Regions from separate parts of the Homo sapiens genome. Here region 2 is linked to region 1. The links come from fine-mapping of genetic effects on gene expression. A gene starts in region 1. The other region holds a variant in brackets. All regions are shown on one strand. Distances are between the middles of the regions.

Region 1 (9,016 bases):
GAGAGGCACGTGCCAGGATGAGGGCCCAGCCAGGTAGCCTGGCTTACTTTTGGGGGTGTAGCTCAGTGTGTGCATGCGTGCGTGTGTGTGTGTGTGTGTGTGTGTGCGTGTGCACATGAGTGGGTGTGTGGTCCTGCACATGTTTGGAGGGCAGGCAATTTGCATAAATAATGCAAGTTGGGGTCTTTGCGTTTTCTCACTGATTTCCTGGTTGACCCCAGCCATCTTGATTTGTTCCACTTCCTGGTGTGAGTTCATTTGGAAAAAGAAAATGGAGAGGGTGATATGCATATCATGCAGATGAAGAGACTCCTAACACCTCCCCAGCTCAGCTCCACCAGCAAAAGCCTGTCCAAGGAGGAACCTGCGGTATTAGGGGCAGAGGGAGAGGAAGCAGGGGTCCACTTGGTCTCCCTCTCAAGGCAGCCATGAGAACAGGGGAAATGAGAAGAGACCAGGCCCCGCCCTCCACAGCAACCCCAAAGTGTCTGCCCTCTCACCTCATCACAGAGCTGCCAGTACCAAGGAGTTTGGGAGAGGGGACAGTTGCACCCGCAAAAGAGAAGGAGGAGGTCACAAGGTTTTCTTCACCTGAAGGGCAGCTTTCGGAAGAGGGAGTGACTGATCTTCTCTGTGTCCTTCCCATTTCGAACCCTGTAAATGTGTAACTAGTCCAAACAAACATGTACATTTAAATGTAAGAAAAGAATGTGGTTGATCCTTATGTACCAATATATCGTGATCTTCAAGTAAACAAAGCAAGTTAAAGAGCGATTTGTATGGTGCTCACATGTATAAACTACCCTAAGCTATTTACCATGGTTATCACTGGGTGGGAGGGTAAAGAAATTGAGGAGGGGGAGGAGAGAGACCCTCCTTTTTTCCTCTTAGGGTCCTACAATGCTTGAGTGTTTTTATAATGGAAATATATTTATGGATTACCTAAGTAGTTTTTGTTCTTCTTGTTGTTGTTTGTTTGTGACGAAGTCTTGCTGTGTCACCCAGGCTGGAGTGCAATGGCACAATCTTGGCTCACTGCAACCTCTGCCTCCCAGGTTTGAGTGATTCTCCTGCCTCAGCCTCCCAAGTAGGTGGGATTACAGGCACCGGCCACCATGCCAGGCTAATTTTTGTATTTTTAGTAGAGACGAGGTTTCACCACATTGGCCAGGCTGGTCTCGAACTCCTGACCTCAGGTGATCCACCTGCCTCGGCCTCCCAGAGTGCTGGGATTACAGGCATGAGCCATCGTGCCTGGCCTACTTGACTAGTTTTTTAAACATTACAGCTTAACAAAAAAAGAACATTGATGGCATTTAAAATAAAAACTTCCCCACCACCACCAAAAATAAGAAAAATAGCTGAGAAGGTGACTGGTTGGATATGAAGCATAAATCCGCTTCTTCTATCACCCCAATTAGTCCTGATTCTGCATGCACTCTGCCAAATAACGCTGCTGGAAGTAAAGGATGGAAAATTCCCGAGGTGTGCACTGTTCCTCCCTTTCCACAGCCACAGCAGACAGTACTAGTTGATAACGGATTTCCAGGGCAATGCTGATGCTGCCAGTCCAGGGACTACCCTTAGCGAACCAGTGGCTTAGAGCATGACGCTGTCCTGCCTGCCTCTGGGCCGTGGGCAAGAGCTGGAGGGACTGCACCAGAGGCAAAGGTGCCCCGCAGTTGGGTACTGCCTGTGCCGAGGCAGTGTGTCGAGTCTCACCTCCACCAGGGATGAGAGCGTTTAAACTTAACCTATCTGTGTAACTGTAGCTGACTCACGAGGTGATTGTTTAAACGAATCAAAATGTGTTTTCCTAACAGCTCTTTTCTGGTTTATTACCTCTCACGGTTTTCTAAAAATGGGTCCTGCCAACCAGAGAGCTATCTGTGTGGGTGGCAGTCATGAATTTGGGGTAGAAAAGTGGGGAGTTGAGAATTAGAATGGAATTACAGTGCTCTGAATGGGCTTCGAAGACAATTTGGATATGTCTGTGAAAAAAATCTAGGAGGGAGGAACCGACGCTAATGAGTCAGGGTCACATGGGGAGAAGAGAGACAGGAAAAAGCACAAAAGCCCACCCCATTCCAGGCTGCCCGCTCCAATGGCATGGCATGGAGGAGGGACGTCGGGATCCTCAGAACTATCCACAGAGGATTTTTGAATAGTTTGCCAAGAGACGTGTGATGTACACTCCCTTCATCCTCCTACATAATCTTTAGTAAAATTGACTTTGCTTATTAGTATTTTATGTAAGTGGATTCCTTAGAAAACTGAAATGACAAATTCTGCCGCCTTCGATGCTGAATAATCCCAGAGCAGCTCCCACGGTGGGTGGCACTGCAGGTGAGGACACAAGCGACCCTGGGGACCTCTTTTCCTAAGCATGTAATTCTTGCCTGACTCCAATACTGTGGTCCTGCAGACCTCCGCAATGCTGGTACCTGGCCCTCCTCACCCGTGGCTCTGTCCACAGTTGCAAGAAGATTTAATTTTTGTTTAAAGCTCTCAGTGGCTTTGTAATGGATTAGAAAATGGATGAGGATGGATTGGAAACAGTGGTTCATCTGTAGAGAAGGTAAGTAACTTTGTAACCCCAAGGCGAGTTATGTAAACAGACTTCCAAACACCCTGGCTGAGATAGGAGAACCTGAAGAGAGGCCATTGCAGCTATGCCCAGAAGGGTCACCAGGAGTGGGGACCCTCACTTGGCAGAGGAGGGTGGCAGAAGGAGGAGGAGGAAGGGGAGTGACAATAGATGGTGGGCCTTCTGCTTCTGTATCTTGGGCATTGATCATTCTGGGGGGTCTTTGCCTCCATTAGCTGACCAGGTCATCTGGGAACTAGTACAGTGAAAGCAGGGAACCTTAATTTTTACAGTTCTGATGCTGACGGATCATTTGCCTTTTGGCAGGGAAAGAGGGGGCTGCTCTTTGGAGACTGGTGCAGATGAGAAACCTGGTAAGAGCACAGCCTGGAAAACCCAGATTAAACAAATCCTAAGAACATGGTCTGGAGAGGAAAGACATGGCTGGGATTGGCAAAAGGGGTAGTGCTGCCTTGCCTTGGTGATGGTAGGGACGGTGCACTGGGGTCCGTGGGGGAACTTGGTCCTTCCTATTGTCACCTCCTCCTCCCACTGTCCTTTGTTCCTGGCTGGCGGTCAGCCGTGTGCACTCAAAAATGAAAGCACCCTAGCTCCTCTTTGCAAGGGACAGCTCTGGGGCTCTCTATGGTCACCAAGCTGCCCCCTCTATGGGTACCACAGCAAATGCAGTTGCAGAAATGGCAGCTGATGATAAAGAGAGCAGTGCACCCACAAGAAGTGACCTCGGCTTGTGATTTCCGATTCAGTTAAGCCAAGGCTGATAAGGAGAGGCGCTGCCCAGGGTGGCCACACTGCCCAGCTGCTGCTGAGTCTGGAACCTGCAGGGGCTGAGTTCTTGGTCCTTTATTCTGTCCTGGGCGTATTCGTTTCCTTCGTTCAGTCACCCATTTGCTTCATAAATAAGCCAAGCATTCTCTTAACACTCTTTCACCCTGTGATGGACGGAATAATGAACAACACTCTAGCCCCTGCTCTTTCAGGACTCATTGAGGGAGGAACAAGGCAGACATGTGAGCTGAGAACGCTAATACAAAGATGCAAGATAGAATGTGACTTCAGTCACATGAAGGGGACAGAAAAGAAGCAGTTATGGGAGGAAGGCACAGCAATAGAGTAAATGATTTACATTTCTGGACTTTTTTTCCAAATAGCTTCCTCTGCAAAATGAAAGGTCAGCATAGAACCTAGTCAAGCCCCTACGGGAAAGGATCAGTGACTTCACAGCCCCAAAGCTCTCTGAGTTGAGCCAAGTGACAAACTCCAACAGGCTTAATCCAAAAAAGAATGGAATTTATTGGATCATGTACAATGAACAGTCCAAGAGTAGATTCAGCCCCAGAATTTCAGGCATAGCTGGATCCAGCACTCAAACCCTGCTGTCAGCAATCTGTCACTCTCTAGAGCCATTTACCCATTAGGCCCAACGGGATGACAGCATAGAATCTGTGAGTTTTTCAAAGCTCTAGAAATGTGTCAGAGACTCTCCCAAATAGTGTTTGACTTCAAAATGTGAAAAAAAGAAAATGACAAAGTAGCAAATGTGTCACCATGCGGTTGATCAACTTCCCCCAGCAGGTCTACTGTTCCTGCCCAGCACTGCTCTCTCCTAATTGCCAAGGACAGCAGATGCTTCTTCATTCTCTTCACCTGTGTCCTCTCCACAATCATTGGCGTCGTTGACCATTGTCTCCTCCTTGGCATTCTGTCTTCTGCCAGCATCCCTGGCACTCCACTTTCCTCCTGCCTCTTAGGCTTGTTTTTTTGTTCTTCTCTGATAAATAATGAATGACAAGGGATGAGCCAGGAGAAGGGTTGGGAAGTGATTCCCACAGCCTGGATAGTTAAGAGACTGCAGTACTTCTGGGAGGGGCTGGAGTGAGGGGATAAAGCATGAGGTTGGAGTTTAGGGAGGGACCAGATCAAGAAGGGTCTGGCAAGTCACACTGAGGAGTTTGGCCATTCTCTTTAAAGTAATAAGGAGCCATTGAAGGTTGTAGCAGGAGTGTAACATGAATAGATTTGTGTTTCACTCTTAGAAAGAGACCTTTGGCTGTGGGGTGAAGGACCTCAGGCTATTGTAGTGTTTCAGGAGAAAGACCATGGTAGTCAGGTGAAACAGTGACAGCCATAGGGATGGAAGAAAGTGGAGGATCCATGACCTATTGACAGGGCTTGGTGCAGTTTAGATGTAACAGGCGAGGAAGAGGGAGGCGTTAGGATGATACCGAGGTTGCTGATTCTGAGGCAGGAAACAGAGAAGTGGGCTTAGAGGGAGAAATGATGAGCTCGGTTTGTACCTGTTGAGATGGAGGTGCTTGAGGGACATCTGGCTGGCCATGTCCAGGGGTGGGGGATGGTTGGTGAGTCTGGAGCTTGAGAGAGAGGTCAGGGCTCCCTGCATCAGTCCCTCCCCCGTCAACACCAGAGGGAGTCTCTTGGGAGGTGTCCCCCTCCTGCCCCATAAAATTGGTCACATTCGATCAGAATAAAGGACCTCCAGTGACCGTGGGTCATGCTTCTTTAGAAAGGATCCTCACAGCAAAATGCATTCTGGGAGGAGCTTCGAGGGCCACAAGGAAGGGGAAGGAAGAGGAGGGGACAGAGCTGTGAGACATCGAGCTTTTCTTTGCAGATCTGAAGAGCACAGTCAAGACCACAGACACCCGTGGAGGCTCCCCCAAGACATCTGCTTCTCTGGGACTGGGGACCTCGCTCAGGACCGTGGGGAGTTGGCTGAAGGACTTGGGGAGCCCAGAAGCTGCCACCGAACCAAGGTAAGTGCTGGCTTGGATGGAGATCGCCAGGCAGGCAGATCTGAGCAGAACAGATAGAGGGGTGGAACGGAGGGACCTGGAAGGGGAGCCCCTGGGGGGGCTGAAACACCCCTGGCTCTTATTTATCCAGGCTCAGGGCTGCCAGGGCCGTCTTTCTGAGAAGGGTGACCTCAGACACTGCAGGGTAATTCTGCCAAGTTAAGATTGTTTCAGCCCATTTTCACAAGATGAAAAGACACGGGACCCTGTGAGAAGGACTCTCCTTTCTTCTGGAATCCTGTACATGCTGTTAATAATAGGACTAATGATTGATGCCCGGTGCTGCAGAGTACACCCATTTTCCCATTTGATTCTCACCAGCATTTAGAGGTTGACTGGATAAGTGTTTTAGTGCCATTTTATAGAACAGAAGACTGAGGCTTAGGGAGATGAAGCAACTTGCCAAAGATTGCAGAGTGGGTTAGCAAGGAGCAGGACTCAGTGTGAAACATCTGGGTCCCAGTCTGTGCCCTTTCTGGGACATCATCTGCCCATCACTTTCCTGGGGAATTTGGTGAAAGTCATGCTGGTCTGGCTGATTCTCTTCCTATACACAAATCCAGTATCTTCTATGTGTGCCAGAGTCTGACCGAGGCCTGGTCTCTGTCCTTGAAGGGCTGACTGCTTGCAAAGAGGGTCTGAACACAGCTGCGAGTGACCAACTCAGAACCTTCAGGGTCCTCAGCGAGCCAGGAGGTGTGTGGTGTGTGCAGGATGAAAGAGACTGCAGGGTGCGGGCTCAGGGAGGGTCCCGTGGAAGGTGGTGCCTGGCTGAGGCTCAAGGGAGGACCTGGTGTGCAAAGAGGAGGCAAGAGGCACCTCAGCAATGGGGAGCAAAGTGTGCAAACCCCCAGAGGCAGGAAAGCAAGTGGGAAAGTCAGGTGTTGGGGGGAGCACAGCTAGAGGGGGTGTGTGGAGCACTCGCAGGCCGGTCCTTTTTTGTTGTTGTTGAGACAGTCTCACGCTTTTGCGCAGGCTGGAGTGTAGTGGTGCGATCTCGGCTCACTGCAACCTCCGTCTCCTGGGTTCAAGCGATTCTCCTGCCTCAGCCTCCCAAGTAGCTGGGACTACAGGCACACACCACCACGCCTGGCTAATTTTTTGTATTTTTAGTAGTAATTTTTTGTGTTTTCACCGTGTTAGCCAGGATGGTCTTGATCTCCTGACCTCGTGATCCACCCACCTCGGCCTCCCATAGTGCTGGGATTACAGGCATGAGCCACAGCGCCTGGCCCGGTCCATTTATTTATTTAGCTCTATGTGGTTTTCAAATATCATCTCATTTAGTCTCATGACAAGCCTATGAGGTAGGTGTTGTTGTCAGGTCCCCTTTAAGATAGGGAAACTGAGGCACGGAGGTTTTAAGCAAGCAGCCCAAGTTGCCCTATTAACAGGATTGGAATGCCACCTGCCTGGCCACCATGCCCCGCTGCCTCACACTAGAACCTGCTGCAGGCCCTACACTGTCTCCACGAAAGCGCCTCGGCTGACACGGTGGCTGCAGATGCCAAGCTGCAGTCATCGCCATCTGGTCCCTGCTGCATTCAGGCCCCACCTGAATTCAGATCCCACCAAGCTTCCCTGCCCCTGGGAACAATGCTCCCCCACCCCCACCCCACTGGCTCTTTCATATCCAGGTGTTTCCTTCCAGCCAGAAGCAGACACAGCTGAGGAAACAGGCCTGTCCTTGTCCACGGGGGCCAGCCAGGGCAGCAGGACCCTCACCTCCCGGCTCCTTGGGAATCTGAGAAGTAGACCTCATGGGGGCAAGGGCTAAAGGTTGAGGGGGCCCCCTCAGGACCCAGAGCTCTGTCCTCTCACTCCCTTAGTCCCTCACTGCCAGCTCACTCACCACACGCTCCGATCCAAAAAAAAAAAAAACACAGCTATGACGTCTGGCAAGCCTGAGCTGCCCCTGAAACCCTGAGGGCACGAGGCAGCTCTGGTGGGAGAAGAGGGGAGGCAACAGAGGCAGGTGACCCAGGCTCTGCAGGTCCCCTCTCTCTGTGCCACAGGAGTGGCTGGAGGACAGGAGGCAGACAGAGTGTGGCCCTGGGAAGCTCCCCGTCTTTTCTGCCAGGGCTTTATTCCTGCAGCTGTGGTATAGGGAGGCCTGGAAGCTCCACATCTTTTCTGCCCAGGCTTTATTCCTGCAGGTATAGGGAGGCCTAGGTGGTGGGTTCTTCTGTCTGAACAGCTTGTCCGAGAAGCCAGCAATGGTGAGCTGGGGGGATGGGGGCACAAGGGACAGTCAGATCTGGAATCTTCATGTTCAGAATCTTCAGGTTCAGAAACTCTGAACCTGAGCCAGGCTTCCTCAGATCTTCCTCCAAGCCCTCTTACTTCAGTCTTCTCCTCTATCCAGGAGGTCACCCCCACTTTATCTCACACCAACAACAGGGAGCAGCAGCTGTGAACAGGTGGTCCCCATTTGCTTCTTTTTGCCGTGTCCATAGAAGGCTTCTATGGTTCTGTGGTCAGTCCTTGGGCTTGTTGTACCCCAAGGGAGTGATGAGCTGTGTGTGTGCACCTGGCCTGCGACTTGTTCAGTGCTGATGTTCTGTGTTTAAGGAAGAATGCTCTCTGAATCCCAATTCATTCATCCCTTCATTCTTTGTCTCTGATCTCATCCCTCTGCCAGGAACTGTGAAGGGGCTGGGTGCGGTGGCTCACGCCTGTAATCCCAGCACTTTGGGAGGCCGAGGTGGGTGGATCACGAGGTCAAGAGATCGAGACCATCCTGGCCAACACGGTGAAACCCCGTCTCTACTAAAAATACAACAAATTAGCTGGGCGTGGTGGCGGGCGCCTGTGGTCCCAGGTACTCGGGAGGCTGAGGCTGGAGAATCACCTGAACCCAGTAGGCAGAGGTTGCAGTGAGACGAGATTGCGCCACTGCACTCCAGTCTGGCGACAGAGTGAGACTCTGTCTAAAAAAAAAAAAAAAAAAAAAAAAAAAAGAGCTGTGAAGGACCTGGGTTATAAGTTAGAAGGATCTGTTAGTTATAAGTTAACTTAGAACTAACAAGTTAGCCCACCACAGCTTCATGGTCACCAGCAGAAGACATGAGACTCCAGAGTCAGAGACAAAGAACTCTATTACTCACAGCACAACTAGGAGCATGAACATTGTGATTATAGGTCCCCCTTTCCCCTAAGTCCTAGGGGCGCCGCAAGGAGCCCAATCCAAATGGACTCTGTTGCATCATAGCCCAGGAACCCTGAGCCTAGGAAACCCCAAATTTTCATGACGAGCTGCAAACAAACCTGCCCAACTTTTACCCTGAAAGGAGACATTATCTCTATTATATTGACAGCAAATTAGTCTTCTGTCCTAGAATGGACAGTATCTTCCAAGGCTGTTTGCTATACAAACGTATTTGAAAAGATGGTGCAGAAGAATGCTCACCAGGCATGCACAAACAGAAACCTATGGAGAATTGTCTCCCAACATCTTCCTAGTGTCCCCCACTCATTGCACCCCAAACGCTGTCCCTTAAAAACACTGGGCACCCTTGCAACTCAGGACTTGGCTATTCTCTTTGCTTAGAGCGTTCTTCCTGCAGATACCGCATGGCTTGCTGTCGGGCCTTTT
Region 2 (9,016 bases), 31 kb after region 1:
ATGAGAACTCACTCATTACCGCAAGGATGGCATTCATGAAGCATCCACCACCATGACCCTAACACCTCCCATTAGGCCCCACGTCCAACACTGGGGAACAAATTTCAATATGAGATTTGGAGGGTCAAATATCCAAACCACTGCAACAGCACAGCAACTGGGGACCTGGTTCCATTAAACTCCCGGTAGTGGGAGAGGAGCGAGGTACATTCTCACAGCTACCACACTTCCCAAATGTCAGTTGCTTATTCTTGTACCACTTTCATGGTTTTTTTTTTTTCCCATGTCAACGTACCACTGTTAAAGAAAGAAATTATTCTGGAACTTATTAAATGGTAAGGAAGACTTATCCAAGACTATTGCATTAGGAAAGAGAAAGCAGTCTCAACTTGGAATAAAGAAAAGCCAGTTGGGGATTTATAGCCAATGAGCAGAGTGAAGGGGTCAGCGGATGGAAAATTCCTAAGAGGAGACATCAAGGGTCGGGACATTCTTGCTAAACTGAGCTAACAGGATTTTTGCTAGAGGCACAAGTCAAATTCTTATACATCGACGGTAAGGGATGAAGGGGTTCAGGAGATATCAAGAGTGGAGGACTCCAACCTAAACTGATTTGGCAGGATTCTTGCTAAAACTGGGATGGGCAGGCCAAAGGCAGGACAGGAGCCAGGGCTGAGCCCTAGTGAAGAAGAGGGCTAAGAGGAGGCTGAGTAAGGTTTGGTCAAGGAGAGAGTCTTTGTTACCACCTGTCCTGGTATGTATCTGATACGATTCTTTAAATTGACTTTAGATTTTAGCTTTATACTTGGGGCGGGGGGTGGAGACTACCAGAAAAGACAGGGTGCTGTAGGCTTCAAAAAAATAAATAAATAAAATAAATAAGTTTTAGCTTCATGCATGGATTCAGGAACTACTAAAAATAATGGCAAAGGCTTGGCGTGGTGGCTCATGCCTGTCATCCCAGCACTTTGGAAGGCCGAGGCGGGCAGATCACGAGGTCAGGAGATTGAGACCATCCTAGCTAACACGGTGAAATCCCGTCTCTGCTAAAAATACAAAAAATTAGCCAGGCGTGGTGGCAGGCGCCTGTAGTCCCAGCTACTCGGGAGGCTGAGGCAGGAGAATGGCGTGAACCCAGGAGGCGGAGATTGCAGTGAGCCAAGATTGCGCCACTGCACTCCAGCCTGGATGACAGAGTTAGACTCCGTCTCACACACACACACACACACAAAAATAATAATAATAATGGCAAAAACTGCAATTACTTTTGCACAAACCTAATAGTTTTTTATATATATATTTTATATATATATATTTCATATATATTTGGAGGATATATATATTTCATATATATTTGGAGGATATACATTTCATATACATATTTGGAGGATATATACTTCATATACGTATTTGGAGACTGTATATATACTTGATATACATATTTGGAGGCCATATATATATTTCATATATATTTGGAGGCTATATATATTTCATATATATATTTGGAGGCTATATATATTTCATATATATATATTTGGAGGCTATATATATTTCATATACATATTTGGAGGCTATATATATTTCATATACATATTTGGAGGCTATATATATTTCATATACATATTTGGAGGCTATATATATTTCATATACATATTTGGAGGCTATATATATTTCATATACATATTTGTAGGCTGTATATATTTCATATACATATTTGTAGGCTGTATATATTTCATATATATATTTGTAGGCTGTATATATTTCATATATATATTTGGAGGCTATATATATTTCATATATATATTTGGAGGCTATATTTCATATATATATTTGGAGGCTATATATATTTCATATATATTTGGAGGCTATATATTTCATATACATATTTGGAGGATATATATATTTCATATATATGTTTGGAGGATATATACATTTCACATATATATGAAAATACATACATGTATTTTCTAACATGCATTAAAATAAATGCATAACTATTCAGATTTTAAGGTCGTTTGTGTACCACCTAAAATTGTCCTACATACCACCAGTGGTACACATACTGCACTTTGGGAAATGCAGGTTTTACAAAGAACACAGAAACGTGGAAGGGAAGGCTATATTCCAGCCCTGGCTGGCATGCTGGCTGCCAGCTCTAAGTCGATTACTTCGGGCACCTCCTGAGGCTCAGAGAAATGGCTAAAGACACTCTCGGAAGGAATGGAGGTGGGACGAGGGTGAGGTTCAGTGGACTGAGTTTCCTCCCACCCCTACCACTGCCCAGATGTGGAGCTGGACCTCCAGAGGAGCGTGCAGGCTGTGCTCCGGGAGCTCAGCACCCAGGCCCCTGCCCTGCAGAGCAACCAAGGTAAGAGCCAGCTGGCAGCAGCAGCTGGTCCCTCTGACCTCCACCCAACCCCAGCCAACAATACACGCGCATACAGGAAAGAGCCCCGGCCTGGAGCTCAGGGGGCAAGGGTCGTCTCACCAAACCCCTTTCCTGCTGGAAATACCTAGAGCCTGAAGGACTGAGAAGGCTTCTCTGCTCCCTAGTTCAACCCTCCCAGCAACTGCCACAGAGCACATTGGGGATCTGCCACCCTTTTTCTTTCCTTTTTTTTTTCTTTTGTTTTTGAGATGGAGTCCTACTCTGTCACCCAGGCTGCAGTGCAGTGGTGCAAACTCGGCTCACCACAACCTCTGCCTCCCTGGTTCAAGCGATCCTCCTGCCTCAGCCTCCCAAGTAGCTGAGATTACAGGCGTGTGCCACCATGCCCTGCTAATTTTTGTATTTTTCGTAGAGATGCAGTTTCACCATGTTGGCCAGGTTGGTCTCGAACTCCTGACCGCAAGTGACCCGCCTGTCTCAGCCTCCCAAAGTGCTGGGATTGCAGGCATGAGCCACGGCACCCGGCCTGCCACCCTCTTTGTTAACCACCTTCCCTAGCTCCACTTCCAAACCTAATTCCCCTCAGCACTCCAGGCCTGCAGGACTTCCAGAATGTGGCTCGGAGCACACACCTGCAAGCACTGCTGCTCTGTGGTCCACACGCATACACCTGTCACACACCTGTCCCCACTGGTGTGTCCCACCTGCCCTCCTTTCTGCCCTGGGAATTCACTGTCCACAAAGGGCTACAGACTAGAACTCCCCACTTGGGAGGAGCCCACCCAGGTGCACCTGGAGCCAAGCGCTGGTGGCGGGGTCACACCCGTGGCTGGTCAGAGCTGCAGCTGAGGCTCCAGGGCTCAGGGTCCTGCTCAGAGGGGTCTCCTCTAAGAACTGCCCACCTGCTCATGCCGGGCTCCCCTTTCTCCTGGCCCAGGCATGTGGAGGTGGTCCCTGCACAAGAAGGTCGAGCGAGATCCCGGTAAGAGCCCAGTGCTGGTCCGCATTCTTCTCAGAGAACTGGAGAAGGTGAGTTCCTGGACCTCAGGGAGGAAGACGGGGATGAAAGGAAGAGAGGGGCCAATTGGGCAGGGGCTCAGTCCTGGCAGCGCTATATCTCATAAGCTTTGGTTGCCTGCATGATTTTTACCATATGCATCTCCCTCCTGTACTTTTACGTAAGCAGTATTTTCTTTACGTCGACTCTCATTGTTTTACTTGAATAAACATCTTTCAAAAAGAAGCACTATAACGCGACCACAAATGGA[A/G]AACCCGCATCACTTGTCAGAAACAGAAGGTACCTATAAACATAAATATACGACTATTGACGTTTCTCAAAATTATCCTCGGGCCACCTAAATTCTCCTTCACACTACCCAATGTTGTACTTTGCAACCGTTTGGGAAACACTGCACTCAAGGGAGGCTCCGAGCTGAGGACTTGTTTGTTGCTTTGCTGCGACTCCTACCCTAATTAAATTTGGCCCCTCACCTGCAGAGTTCTCTGAGGCCCCCCCACGCTCCCACACCCTCACTGAGGGGCTTCCTCACCTGTGTGCCCTCCCCTCCCCACTCCTCTATCCAGAGCAGACAATGGCCCTTTGCTCTCCCCCTGGCTGCCTTCCACCCCATCTCCTGCCCACTCCCAGCCTAGACTGCCTCCCGCTATGAAGTGGGGATTCCCCCAGCCCAATACCTGTCACGTGATCTCCTGTTTTCCAGGCGGAAAGCCAGGACCTCCGGCATGTCATCATTCCCTTGCTGCACACTGTAATGTACGTGCTCACCAAGGTGAGCTGGGGACTGAGGTCGAGGTGGTAGTGGTGACCTGCATGTGGCTGGGCTGGACACTCTCCCCTTAGTGGGCACTCAGTCTCCGCCAGGATGAGCCTAGAAAATCCCTTGGATTGCCTGCCCTAAACTGGCTTCTGAGCACTAGCCACCCCCTTTCCCTCCCATATGGAGAGAGAACTCTGGAGAGACAATGGCCTTGAAAGGCAGGATGAGGTCTTTGGGTTTGCTCCTGTGTGCAGTGCAACAGGAGACATCACTGATCCCTACACAGAGAAGAGACATGATACTCATGTGGTTAATGTCTCAGGAGGAGTAATCGGGAGCTGCGTGTTGTTGCAGCGGGTGGGAGTGGTGGTTAAGGCAGGCAGGAAGACCAAGTCTGGGGTTGCTGGAGAGTCCAGGGTCAAGATGGGGCTTAGCTCCGGCAGAGACGGAGGGCACACTGAGGTCGGGAGGGAGAGGGGGGCCTCCCGGGCACTGTGGAGCATTTCAGGCCTGTGGGATGCAAGGAGGAGCAAAGGAGACTGAGGAAGTGCCTCCATGGTTTTGAGCCTGGAGAACCGCAGGAATGTGCTTCCCTGATGGAGCAGGAGGGCTGGGAGGAAGTTGATTTGCTTGCATAACTTGATGCAATGAATTTTTATCTTGGTAAGTTGGGGCGGGGCGACAAATGGATGTCTTACAGGTGCTGGGAGAAGAGGCTGGAAGGTGTGGGTTTGGGAGAGAGCTGTGAGCCCAGGTCTGGCTGTTAGGCCTGACCTTCCACCTCTTCTCCCAAGCCCCTCCCCGGAAACTCCCCCGGGACCCTTCACCTCCCCCTCCTCCCTCTTACCTCCACCTCCTCCCTCTCACCTCCCCCTCCTCCCTCTCACCCAGGCCACAGGAATCACAGAAGAGCTCTACCAGAGAATCTATGCCTTTTGCACAAGGTTACTGACCCTGCCCACCCCCTACTGCACAGTCGCCTTGGACTGCGCGATAAGGCTGAAAACGGAGATGGCTGTCCCAGGTAAGAGTCACTGGGCATCTTTGTCTCCCACGCTGCACCTCCAACATTGCCCAGGGTCTTTCCTTTTTCTCCAGGATACCGGGGAGCTCAAAAGCCTCCACACCTTCTGTAGGAAGGTGGAGAATGGGAGTCAGAGACTTGGGGGCTGTTTGGCCAAAGTGGTCTGGTTTGCAGGGACACTGTACCAAAGGATGGTCATTGCCGAACAGAACTTGACGAATGAGCTGTATCCCTACCAGGAGAGGTGAGTGGCCCCAGAAAAATTGCTACCTTCAGCCTCCTAAAACTGTTGTGGCTTTAGTGACTGCTCCCTGGCAGGAGGACAAAAGAGGAGGCTGGATTAAGAAGAGCCCTAGCAGACCTCCCCAGCCATGATATTTGTCCAGCAGTGGGGTGCGTTTGCCATTCAAGGTTGGCGCCATATTGTTTTCTGGAGACCACTGAACACAGGATAGGTCTTTCTTCTCAGGTTGGATTGGAAGCTACCCTGCTCACATGCAGAAGGTGGACATGGCCTCGGGGCCACTCTGGGGCTCTGTCATTCCACCTCCATCCTGCCCTTGGCCATAATGCAGCATCATACCAGCCAGGCAGCCAGAGGAGACTCCAGAATAGCCATAGCGGAGGGGCTCAGGCGCAAGTGCACAATGAAGCCAGAGGGCTTCCATGGGGGACGCCAAGCCTCTTAGATAAGACTGAGGAAGTGTCCCCTGCTCGTGTTGGGGAGAGGGGTGATGAAGTTGGGAGCGGCACCTCCCTCTTCTGCAGGCACCTCCACTAACTTGGCCCTGAAAGGCACAGCTTGAGTTTGGGGTGTGAGGTGCTGAGTTCATGAAAGATGCAAGGAGGCCCAGGGCACCCATGGGAGAGGTGGGGAGACACAGTGGGTGAGGAGGAGGGAGTAGGGGAGGTTGGCTCTCTGGTGTGATAAGAGTGATGAAAGAAGGTGAGATTCACTCAGAGTTCAGAACTCCAGTTCTGGCAGGAAGGATTTAGGGTCCCTCCTAGAGGGTGACCTGGTCCCTGGGCCAGGATGCTGAGAGAGGGAGCAGGATTGAGGCTGGAACTTTCCTAAACATGGGACTAGGCCTGCTTTCCTCTGTGGACAGTGGATTAGAGCTGCCCCTCTAGAAGGGCTGTGCATGCTCTTATTTGCCACAGTCCTCACCACTCCCTATTGTCATCCCACCCAGAGACTTTTGAATCTGAGACTCCTCTTTTTAGCAGAATTAAATTACTTGGAGGTGCTGCACAGCTCTGAGGGTGCCCATCCGGTGGCCCCTCTCCCATTAGTTACTATCAATCCCACCTCTCCCCTCTGCTTCTGCCCTCAGAGTGTTCCTCTTCGTGGATCCTGAGCTGGTGTCTGCGTCTGTGTGCAGTGCTCTGCTACTGGAGATCGAGGCGGCCCAGGCGCAGCAGACACCAGAGACCTGCATGCGCCACGTGGTCTCCCACGCCCTGCAGGCGGCTCTGGGGGAGGCCTGTCACGCAGGCGCTCTGCACAGGAAGCTGCAGGTAATGGCCCTGCCTGCAGCCCCTTGTCAGTCCCAGCCCTCGTCCCTGCATGCCCATACCAGTCATTCACCCTGCTCTTCCTCCTTCTCCTGTTTCGCATCACCTTTTCCCCCAAATCAAAAATTAATACATTTTGGCTGGGCGCAGTGGCTCACACCTATAACCCCAGCACTTTGGGAGGCTGAGGCGGGTGTATCACCTGAGGTCAGGAGTTCAAGACCAGCCTGGCCAACATGGCGAAATCCAGTCTCTACTAAAGATACAAAAACTAACTGGCCGTGGTGGCGGGCACCTGTAATCCTAGCTACTCTGGAGGCTGAGGCAGGAGAATAGCTTGAACCCGGAAAGTGGAGGTTGCAGTGAGCCAAGATTGTGCCACTGCACTCCAGCCTGGGTGACAGAGAGAGACTCCATTTCCAAAAAAAAAACCAATAATAAGATATAAGATAATGCCAGTATTCCTAGCAGCAGGGTGAATGAGTGTCTCAGCCCCGAAAGCAGGAATCTGGGTCACCACAACAGTAGCTACTACATCATCTCACTCGGAGTCAAAGCCAAAGTGATTGCAATGACCTATAAGAGCCTGGTGTGGTGGTTCATGCCTATAATTGCAGGTACTTGAGAGGCCGAGGCAGGAGGATTGCTTAAGGCCAGGGGTTTGAGACCAGCCTGGGCAACATAGCAAGACCCCATTTCTACAAAAAGTAATAAAAAAAAAAAAATACCAGACGCAGTGACATGTGTTTGCAGTCCCAGCTACTCGGAAGACAAGAGGATCACTTGAGCCAAGTTCAAGGCTGCAGTGAGCTGTGACTGTACCACTGCACTCTAGCCTGGGTAACAGAGAGACACCCCATCTCTAAAAATAAAAATACAAGAACCTCATCTTGAGGGCCTTGACCTGTTCCCATCTCTCTTCATTTCCTCTCTGGCCTGTCTCCTAACTTTCCCTCTCATTTCCTCTGCTCCAGCTAAACAAGCCTCCTCATTTGTCTCCCAACATGCACATGCCTAACATACTTGCACCCCAGGGCCTTTGCGCTGGCTACTCCCTATGCTTGGAACGTTCTCTTAGATACCTGCACGACTCACTCTTTTTTTTTTTTTTTTTTTTTTGAGACGAAGTCTTGCTCTGTTGCCCAGGCTGGAGTGCAGTGGCGTGATCTCGGCTCACTGCAAGCTCCGCCTCCTGGGTTCACGCCATTCTCCTGCCTCAGCCTCTCTGAGTAGCTGGGACTACAGGCGCCGGCCACCACACCCAGCTAATTTTTTCTATTTTTAGTAGAGACGGGGTTTCACCGTGGTCTCCATCTCCTGACCTCGTGATCCACCTACCCCGGCCTTCCAAAGTGCTGAGATTACAAGCGTGAGCCACCGCGCTGGGCTGCATGGCTCACTCTTTCACTTCAAGTCTTTACCTAAAAGTCACTTTCGGCCAAGCGCGGTGGTTCACGCCTGTAATCCCAACACTTTGGGAGGCCAAGGCAGGCAGATCATGAGGTCAGGAGATCGAGACCGTCCTGGCCAACATGGTGAAACCCCGTCTCTACTAAAAATACAAAAATTGGCTGGATGTGGTGGTGCGCACCTGTAGTCCCAGATACTCGGGAGGCTGAGGCAGGAGAATCGCTTGAACCCAGGAGGCAGAGGTTGCAATGAGCCAAAGTCACACCACTGCACTCCAGCCTGGGTGACAGAGCAAGACTCCGTCTCAAAAAAAAAAAAAAAAAAGTCACTTTCTCAGGGGGGGCTTCCCAGATCACACAATCTCTTTTGTTTGCTGCTGTATCCCAGCCCCTAGAACAACACCTGGTGCAGTGAGCTATTCTAAGTGCTGGAGATGCAGCTATGAATGAAACAGACAAAATTCCCTGTGAATTCCTGGAATTCACAATCTAGTGGGGGCTAGAACATTGATCCAAGTGCTGGGTGACGCTTTCAGGAAGTGGGCGTCAGTGGCTATCTCTGCCTCTCTGGGTAACAGACATTGCAGACCAGTAGTCTCCCCATAATAGCGTGTGAGGGGCAGAGGGGAACCCCCACTTGCAGGGCAGGCATAGGGCCCTGGATGTGGGATCCAGAAGCCTTCGGGGGAAGCTCCTGCCGGGCCCCCAGGGGCAGCGGAGAGGTGTCACCTTGGGCTGCCAGGGCCCTGCGGACTTGGCTTAGGAGCTGGGGTGCGTGGGCGCTGGGCCAAGACCCAGGCTCTGACGCCCCTCCCCAACAGGCCAGCCCTCGCCGCACCCTGGAGCACTATTTCCACGCCGTGGTGGCCGCCTTGGAGCAGATGGCCAGCGAGGCCAGCCC

What was found. PIP is the estimated chance that this variant, and not a neighbour inherited with it, causes the effect.
Region 2: its variant is fine-mapped to the expression of PIK3R6 in whole blood (INTERVAL, PIP above 0.99).

Annotation. Positions count from the first base shown.
Region 1 is chr17:8,863,895-8,872,910 of GRCh38, reverse strand. PIK3R6 (phosphoinositide-3-kinase regulatory subunit 6) reads left to right here and starts at 5,237. Exons shown (of 20, transcript NM_001010855.4): 1 at 5,237-5,382. It overlaps LOC107985071 (a long non-coding RNA gene), which reads right to left and starts at 5,137. Exons shown (of 2, transcript XR_001752787.2): 1 at 4,906-5,137; 2 at 3,878-4,379. RefSeq lists enhancers at 5,109-5,258, 5,289-5,468, 7,292-7,641, 7,752-7,891, 7,942-8,011.
Region 2 is chr17:8,832,966-8,841,981 of GRCh38, reverse strand. PIK3R6 (phosphoinositide-3-kinase regulatory subunit 6) reads left to right here. Exons shown (of 20, transcript NM_001010855.4): 3 at 2,285-2,368; 4 at 3,327-3,418; 5 at 4,111-4,179; 6 at 5,059-5,191; 7 at 5,366-5,435; 8 at 6,526-6,709; 9 at 8,937-9,016. Among named protein-coding and RNA genes, the nearest start is that of PIK3R6, 30 kb to the left of the region's middle. RefSeq lists enhancers at 4,350-5,156, 8,682-8,761. The variant A/G (reference allele first, on the strand shown) is at 3,658.